Linked DNA regions of Homo sapiens: region 2 is linked to region 1. The links come from fine-mapping of genetic effects on gene expression. A gene starts in region 1. The other region holds a variant in brackets. All regions are shown on one strand. Distances are between the middles of the regions.

The links. PIP is the estimated chance that this variant, and not a neighbour inherited with it, causes the effect. A credible set is the group of variants that fine-mapping cannot tell apart.
Region 2: its variant is the best candidate, but not a certain one, in a credible set for the expression of ZNF572 in whole blood (INTERVAL, PIP 0.86).

Annotation. Positions count from the first base shown.
Region 1 is chr8:124,971,284-124,975,678 of GRCh38, reverse strand. ZNF572 (zinc finger protein 572) reads right to left here and starts at 2,384. Exons shown (of 3, transcript NM_152412.3): 1 at 2,263-2,384; 2 at 1-73. The coding sequence starts at 38. RefSeq lists an enhancer at 2,282-2,441.
Region 2 is chr8:125,006,182-125,010,576 of GRCh38, reverse strand. It overlaps SQLE (squalene epoxidase), which reads right to left. Exons shown (of 11, transcript NM_003129.4): 4 at 3,090-3,186; 5 at 1,493-1,606; 6 at 1,234-1,405. Among named protein-coding and RNA genes, the nearest start is that of SQLE, 9.9 kb to the right of the region's middle. The variant A/G (reference allele first, on the strand shown) is at 2,476.

The DNA of each region.
Region 1 (4,395 bases):
TTAGAATCTGAGACCAACAGTTTTTTTTCTTGCTCCATCACAATGATCACAGCCAAGTTAGAGATCAGAAACCCTGTGGAAGGAAATAAATTATGTTTGGAGGTATTTGTTAAAGCTTATTCTTCCTCCTTCCTTCCCAACCATTCCAACACAACAATAGGAGGCATAGAATGTTCCATGAACCATACCGAAAATAAGAAACACAACTTTTAGCAGCCCTTTTAGAAAATCTTATCTCAGATCTAAGTGTTTAGAATTAAGGGTTAACCCTGAAATAACAATGCAAAAAAGTAAATCTTCACATTAAAGGTCTGAGGATCAAGCTTCAAAGACAGAATACTAATCCTCATTGTCCACACGTAGCTTAGAAACACTTTTACTTTAAAAAGCAAAGTATTTTTTTTAAGACACCAATAATAAAACTTATAAAGACTTCAAGGAATCAATATGAAGGCATAAGCAGCAGCTAAAGAAAAAAAGCACCCTGTTTAGTTTCAAAAGAATAACTTGGTCTTGACAGAAGGAAACCTTTGAAGTCAATTTCAAAGGAAAGTTAGGATTTATATAACCAGTAAAGAGAAATTAGGACAAAGCCGAGGTGGAATAATTATAGCCAATAACCCTGCAATATAAAAAGGAGGCTAAAGAGGGACCTCTTCCTCCTTGCACTTAGTTCCTAAGTCTATCATATTCACAATATCCATTTCAGCCTAAACTTCGTCTTCTGGAGCCAACAATCACTAACCTATTTTAAGGGACTAGAAAATGTTCCATCCTGGCTAATGCGGTGAAACCCCATCTCTACTAAAAATACAAAAAATTAGCCGGGTGTGGTGGCGGGCGCCTGTGGTCCCAGCTACTCAGGGGGCTGAGGCAGGAGAATCGCTTGAACCCAGGAGGCAGAGGTTGCAGTGAGCCGAGATCGTGCCATTGCACCACTCCAGCCTGGGTGACAGAGCAAGACTCTGTCTCAACAAAAAAAAAGAAAAAAGAAAAAGAAAAAGAAGAAAATGTGATCTATCACAGGAAGGCAGTGACATATGGACTTTTGGCATCCATTTCAGAATATAAAGAGTATCATTATTTGGGAGAAAAATAAGGACGTAAAAGGATATACAAATGCACACATTTTAAAAACAAAAAATAGTATATGTACTTATATTGTATCTTCACCATTACTGCCTATTATGTGCCAGGTAGTGAATGAAATAATTTGCACACATTTGTCATTTAATTCTTACAGTAGCCCTCTGAAGTGTATGAACAACTACCAGCATTTTATAGGATGAGTTTGAAAGGTATTAAGAAACTTTCCTAAGGTCACCTAGAAAGTGGTAGAGCAGGACTGAGCTCCAAGTCTGTTTGGATGCTGACCTTTTTCACCCTCTGATCTATTATCGTAAACTAGAACAGGAAGCAGAGCTGGGCATAATCCCAAACTGCAAAGAATCCTCAGAGTCCCTTTATTTTAGAATATTTAGAATACTGGCATTTTAAAACAGAGGTCTACATTCCTAAACCTTGTTAACAAAGTGAGTCGACATTCCCTAAGCACACTCAGCAAGTGGGGATTTGTTCTAGAGAAACGTGAAACTAGTCTACATTACTAATATCCCCAGTGTTTGAGTTGGGGGGGAGAAAAAACCATACACCTGAATGCAAAAAAAGGAAGGGGGTGGAGTTGTTCGAATGGAGTTATATATTTTGCTGTCCTAAGTTACATATTGTTATCAAAGTATTTACAAAAGCAGCAAGAGTCTGGGCAACACATTACCATCTCCCCCATTTTCCCTACTAAAATACTATTAAATTTGGCAGCAAAGGAGCCCCCGGAACAGTGGCTCAGCAAAATGGTGGCAAATGCAAGACCATACAAGGCTGCCATTAAGATGTCTCTCCACGGGGAAGGAGTGTTTTCACTGTTCTAGAGCAACAATGTGATCAGAGTGGGGCCGTGCTTTGATCAGAAAGCCTTCAAAGAAAATGCACTGCCTGAAGCCTAGTTTTAAGAACCGCTGGCTGGTACAAGTTGGAGACGCTGGGGGGTGAAGTTCCAGGATACCAGACGGTCTCCGGCCGACAAGATCCCGTAAGGGACCCCGCGGACAAGGATGACGGTGGCCCGTCGGCGGGAGATGCTGGGCCTTCGCCCCTGGCAGCAGCGGGAACTCTCTCCCGGACGTCCACTGCAGCCTGGACGGGGCTGTTTCCACTCCTCTAGCCCGCAACCCTCGGCTCCCTTCCCCCCAAGAAGGAACTCACTGTTCTGGGTGCTACACCCAAGGCGCCCTGCACCCCCAGCGGTCCGGGAGGAAGGTACCCCCTCTCCCTCTGACCCCACCAACCCAGGGTCCTAAACTCTCAAACCCGGAAGGCAGAAACAGGAAGTTACCCTCATCTCCCCCGGCGGCTTTGCTGGGGCCGTTCTAGGAAACAGTGATGGCCCACTCTCGTTGATCTTAACCCTTAGGGTCCTGGACCAGAAGGAGCGTGGGGGTGGATTTCCTTTCCCTGTGCTGTGACCAGCCAACTGTGAACCTCATTTCTCTCACTTGTCAGGCGGCTTACGACAGGGGCCTGATTGGAGCTTATACTTTTCCTTGCCATCAGAATATCATCAGATTAATTATCATCACTATTAGAATCAAAATCAATCTAGTATTTTTCTTTTTTGAGACGGAGTCTCGCTGTTGCCTAGGCTGGAGTGCAGTGGCGCGATCTCGGCTCACTGCAAGCTCCGCCTCCTGGGTTCACGCCATCCTCCTGTCTCAGCCTCTCGAGTAGCTGGGACTACAGGTGCCTGCCACCATGCCCGGCTAATTTTTATATTTTTCGTAGAGACGGGGTTTCACCGGGTTAGCCAGGATGGTCTCGATCTCCTGACCTCGTGATCCGCCCACCTCGGCCTCCCAAAGTGCTGGGATTACAGGCGTGAGCCACCGCGCCCGGCCTCAATCTAGTATTTTTAAACACCTATTGTTTCTGTTCCCACCGCTATGAACATGGATATATATTTACTTACCTGTGAAAGTTAGAAAGCTAAGGCATCCATTCACATATAAAACAATTCGTTTACAAGGCACCCTTATTAACACCTAGAAAAGTAGTTAATCCCTCCTCTTTCATTACAGAGAAAATAGAAGCCAATCCCTTCATCTCACCTCTACCAAACAGAAATCTACTCAAGTCTGCACCCTGCCGTTTTCTTTCTTCCCTCCTGTTACAATACAGAGTCCCTCTGTGACCTTTTTTTTTTTTTTTTTTTTTTTTGTGATGGAGTTTCACTGTGTCACCAGTCTGGAGTGCAATGGCAGGATTTCGGCTCACTGCAACCTCTGCCTCCCGGGTTCAAGCAATTCTCCTGCCTCAGCCTCCCAAGTAGCTAGGACTACAGGTGTGCGCCACCATGCCCAGCTAATTTTTGCATTTTTAGTAGAGACTGGGTTTCACCATGTTGGCCAGGATGGTCTTGATCTCTTGACCTCATGATCTGCCCGCCTCAGCCTCCCAAAGTGCTGGGCTCTTTGGTATTTTAATAAGCCCTTTACTGGTACTCACTTTCCTACCTATCTTCTTGGAAACTTCGCACTACCAACTAAACTCTCCATCCCTCCACCCCCATCCCCAAATAGTCCCTCAGCTTTTCTTTTCTCTTTTTACTCACAATGTTTCCATTTCATCAATTTTCCACTAACCTTAACATTTCTCCTGCAACAACAACAACAAAAAAATCACTAGCATCACCAATGACCTCCATGATGTTAGTTAGTGCAACTGGTATTTTTAGTTCTCGGGTCCTTTTTCAGGAGGTTTGATATGGCTACGGACTCGTCTTCTAGAAACACTCTTTTGAGGTGACATCACATTCTCCTCCTTTTCTTCCAACATCTCTAGTCAGTCCTGTTAGTCTCTTTTCCAAGTCAGTCCCTCAAGATCATCCTCTCCTCTTATCACTGAATGTTCTCTGCCTAGGCAATCTCATCCACTCCCACATTTTCAAATACCACCTAGGCAGACAACTCAAAAATTTACTTCTCCAGCCCAAGCTACATGTCTGAGCTCTTCACTCATAACCAATGGTCTATTTGGCATCTCATACAGGAAGTCTCAATAACACCTCAAAACCAAAATGTCAAAAATCAAAATCATAATCTGTCTTCTCTCTCACTGTTCTTCTCCATATACACATATAAACACAAAATAAAACAAAATAAACCTGTTTCTCTTCCAATATTCTTTCAACCATCCATCCAGTTATATGGAAACCCAGAAGCCCTTCTTTTCACTTCCCTTTCCTTACCTTCCATATACAATTCATAAATAAGCCTCATCTGTTGTGTAATAAATAATTCTCACCTGTAGTTGTTTCTTCTAACCACCAGGGTCACCTCTAAT
Region 2 (4,395 bases), 35 kb before region 1:
ACTTCATTTCTGTTAATAATTTGTTACTAAAGTGGTTTCACTTAGTTTAAAAAATAACTTGAAAAAAACGGAATATTTAAACAAAATGTACTCATACCAAAAATAGTTTCCTATTACTCTAATCATATCATAATTGACAATGAGGGTTTCCCTTCAATTTTATCAAAATTCTTAAATTTTTTTTACTTTTCTTTCCTATATCATCCCATTCTCAAAAAAAGATCCTAAAAACTGTACCATGAAAACTTTAGATTTGTGAAAAAGTAATTTTTATTAATGTTTTTACAAAGCTATCTAAATCTCATGAAGCCTTTATATTCAACTCAAAACTAACATGATCCTGAAGATCCCTTACAATTCTCACATTCTGCGGACAGGACATGTCTGTTCAAACAGGCACATATGAGCCAGACAGACCTGATATCAACCCTGGTTCTGCCATTACTAATAGTTTATACTTGGAGGAGCTAACTAATCTCTCTGAACCTTAGTTCTCCCATCTGTAAAATGAGAATAATGATAATGCCTACCTCACAGAGTGGTTACATAGATTAAATGAAATTATGTTTGCTAAACACTTTATAGTAAGCATTCAAGAAATGGTAGCTGTCATTACTACAAAAACCAAGCACAAAAATATTTAGGTATAAGAGATAAAGAATTCAGAGTCAGATTCGTGTCCAGAGACTACCTTTAAAAATACCATATATGCCAATAAAAACAATTATTCTAAAAACTATGCTATTATGTGACAAAAACATATCAAAACTTTTTTTTTTTTTTGAGACGGAGTTTCGCTCTTGTTGCCCAGGCTGGAGTGCAATGGCACGATCTCGGCTCACTACAACCTCTGCCTCCCGTTCAAGCGATTCTTCTGCCTCAGCCTCCTGAGTAGCTGGGATTACAGGCATGCACCACCACACTCGGCTAATTTTGTATTTTTAGTAGAGACGGGGTTTCTCCATGTTGGTCAGGCTGGTCTTGAACTCCCAACCTCAGGTGATCTGCCCACCTCAGCCTCCCAAAGTGGTGGGATTACAGGCATGACCTACTGTGCCCGGCCCGAAACTTTTTTTTATTAATTTGGGAGTTTGTTTTGCTGTTTTTAAGTGCTAGTTTAAATAGTTCAGTTCCAGAATATCTGGTTGACTGGATGAATGTTTCACCTGCCATCCTTATCTCTGGCCTATTTTAGACACAGCCTTTGTAAGAACTGAAGATGCTATTTCTTACCAGGTATTTGTGGGTAAATTTTTTCAACCATGTATTCTCTTAAATTCCTTGGCATTTCTCCTCTAATGTCAACAAGTACTCGAGTTTCACTGGATGAAATCTGGTAGATGAGAACTGGACTCGGGTTAGCTAAAATAAGTTCAGCATGATTTGCTTTAAACTGTGGTGCATTCTAAAACAAATAAAAAGAAAATGTTTTAATAATTTTCAAATTTCAAGTTTCTTTTATTGAAATTACAATAACACACTCCTACAGTACCTTCATAAGAAAGCCAACAAAATGAGATGATACAGAAACTTTATTGGAGACCAGGCTTTTCCTGAACTTGGAGAAAAGCCCATCTGCAACAACAGTCAGTGGAGCATGGAGTTCCTATAACAGAAATGAAGACTACTCAGTTTAGTAGTCAGAAACACACAGTAAAAAAAGCCATTCTTAAAAAATGTGCGTGAAGAGATTTAGATATATTATCAGATAGCATTATAGAGAGTAGTTGAAGATAATACTATTGAAGAAACTGTTACGTGGGCTTCAGATAACGCATGACCAGTGTTTAGATACTTCCTCTGAGTCCCTGAGGATCATCTCCCTTTGTAGCCCTCCCATGCAAACCATCTGGGATTACTCTCCACTTTGACAGACAATGGGGGAAACAACTACAAGGCAGGCATGTAACACAGAGCAGTCAATCTCATTACAAATTCAAGGGACTAGCCAGATTCTTTCATTCTAAAATTTCCTAACTTCATATAGTGCTTTTAGTCAGCAGCTAGGGCTTAGAAGAATTTTTGTACAAATGACTACATGTATTTATAATACTACAGTATGAGCAGAGAAAACATTCCAGTCACCTTCATTAGAGGACAATTTCTAAGAGGTGGTAACCCTATGGGGAGCAGTCCAGAATTACATGTTTTTTACTACGATAATTTTTTTTTAAAAAAAGGAAAAATTGGCCGGGTGCGGTGGCTCACGCCTGTAATCCCAGCACTTTGGGAGGCTGAGGTGGGCAGATCACCTGAGGCTGGAAGTTCAAGAGCAGCCTGACCAACATGGAGAAACCCCGTCTCTATTAAAAATACAAAATTAGCCGGATGCGGTGAAGCATGCCTGTAATCCCAGCTACTCAGGAGGCTGAGGCAGGAGAATCGCTTGAACCTGGGAGGTGGAGGTTGCAGTGAGCCGAGATCGCACCATTGCACTCCAGCCTGGGCAACAAGAGTGAAACTCCGTCTCAAAAA[A/G]TAAAACAAAATAAAATAAAATAAAATAAAAGGATAAATTGTTTTTAAAAAGATTCTCTTACTATTACCTGAGTTAAATTGCTCATTTTATCTGAATCATTTCTTTTATGTTGAATCTTGCCTTCTTTCCCCTGCTAGTTCCCCTCTGCTTCTCTGCTGATGTATATTACTGTTTCAAAAACTATTCACATTAGTTCTGTTTAAAATGTTTTTTGCATAGCATTCTGAAGTCCTCTAAAGAACAATGTGTTGCAATCTGAAACCCATCCTGTTGCATATGGCTTAGAAAGAACTCAGTTCATTTGATAAATAACACAGGCTGAGTATCTCTAATCCAAAAATCTGAAATCCAAAACTTTTTGAGCAGTAATGTGACAAACAAAATACTCATTAGATCATTTCAAATTTCAGATTTTCAGATTAGAGATGCTCAACTGGTAAGTATAATGCAAACATCTGAAAAAAATAAAAAATCTGAAACACTTCTGATCCCTAGCATTTCAGATAAGAGATACTCAACATGTAAACCGGTAAGCCTACTTTTTTAAAGGGGTAAGTGAAAAAGCAGGAAAAACAACATCTCTTAGGAAGAGGTGACATTTGGTATTTCTCACCTTGATATCTCCAGTCTCTTTATCCTTGTACTGAACTCCCATCACAACATCATCTTCCTCTAATAACTGTAACACAACACCTTCAATAAACTTTGCACTAAAGAATAAAAAAAAATACATTTCTAAAGCAGCACATTTCAGCAATTTAAATTAAATATAAATTCCTTATCTCCAGTTTATCCATATAAACTGGACATGCATGTGTGTGCAAACACGTGTCCAATGTGTGTTTTTTATTTTCTAATTTATCAACATTTAATACATATTACTAATGATTACATTAGTAATCATTAGTAATCATTAAATATTTTAAAAATATTTTAAAAAGTAACATTGGATTTTCATCTTAATTTGTTAAAAATAAATTAATTTGTTAAAAAATAAAATATAGGCAGAGAAACTTTACATACCCTCATACATTCATACACAGAGGGGAAAACAAGTATTGGAATGCATCCTGCAAACTGTTAAGAGTAATTATTTCTGGCAGGGCACGGTGGCTCACACCTGTAATCCCAGAACTTTGGGAGGCCAAGGTGGGCGGATCACAAGGTCAGGAGATCAAGGCCATCCTGGCCAACATGGTGAAACCCCGTCTCTACTAAAAATACAAAAATTTGCCAGGCGTGGTGGCATGTGCCTGTAATCCCAGCTACTCGGGAGGCTGAGGCAGGAGAATTGCTTGAACTCGGGAGGCAGAGGTTGCAGTGAGCCGAGATTGCAACACTGCCCTCCAGCCCGGGTGACAGAGCGAGACTCAGTCTCAAAAAAAAGAAAGAGTAATTATTTCTAGTCAGAAAGATCACAGGTAATTTTTATAATCTTTATATTTGGGACTATTTTTCCATTTTCTTTTTTTTTTTTTTTGAGACCAAGTCTCGCTCTGTCGCCCAGGCTGGAGTGCAGTGGCGCTATCTCGGCTCACTGCAACCTCCACCTCCTGGGTTCAAGCAATTCTCCTGCCTTAGCCTCCCAAGTAGCTGGGACTGCAGGTGCGTGCTACCACGCCTGGCTAATTTTTTCTTATTTTTAGTAGAGACGGGGTTTCACCATATTGGCCAGGCTGGTTTTGAACTCCTGACCTCGTGATCTGCCCACCTCAGCCTCCCAAAGTGCTGGGATTACAGGCATGAGCCACCGCACCTGGCCGATTTTTCCATTTTCATACAGTGAACATACTCTTCTTCCATGGATATCAAGTCTTTTTAGTCCAAAGGATTAAGTCCACTTGCTTCTTCACTTGCTTTGTCAATACTTTAGTCTGTGTCAGTCACATGAGGGTTCTCACGCTTAAAACTTCTTCAAT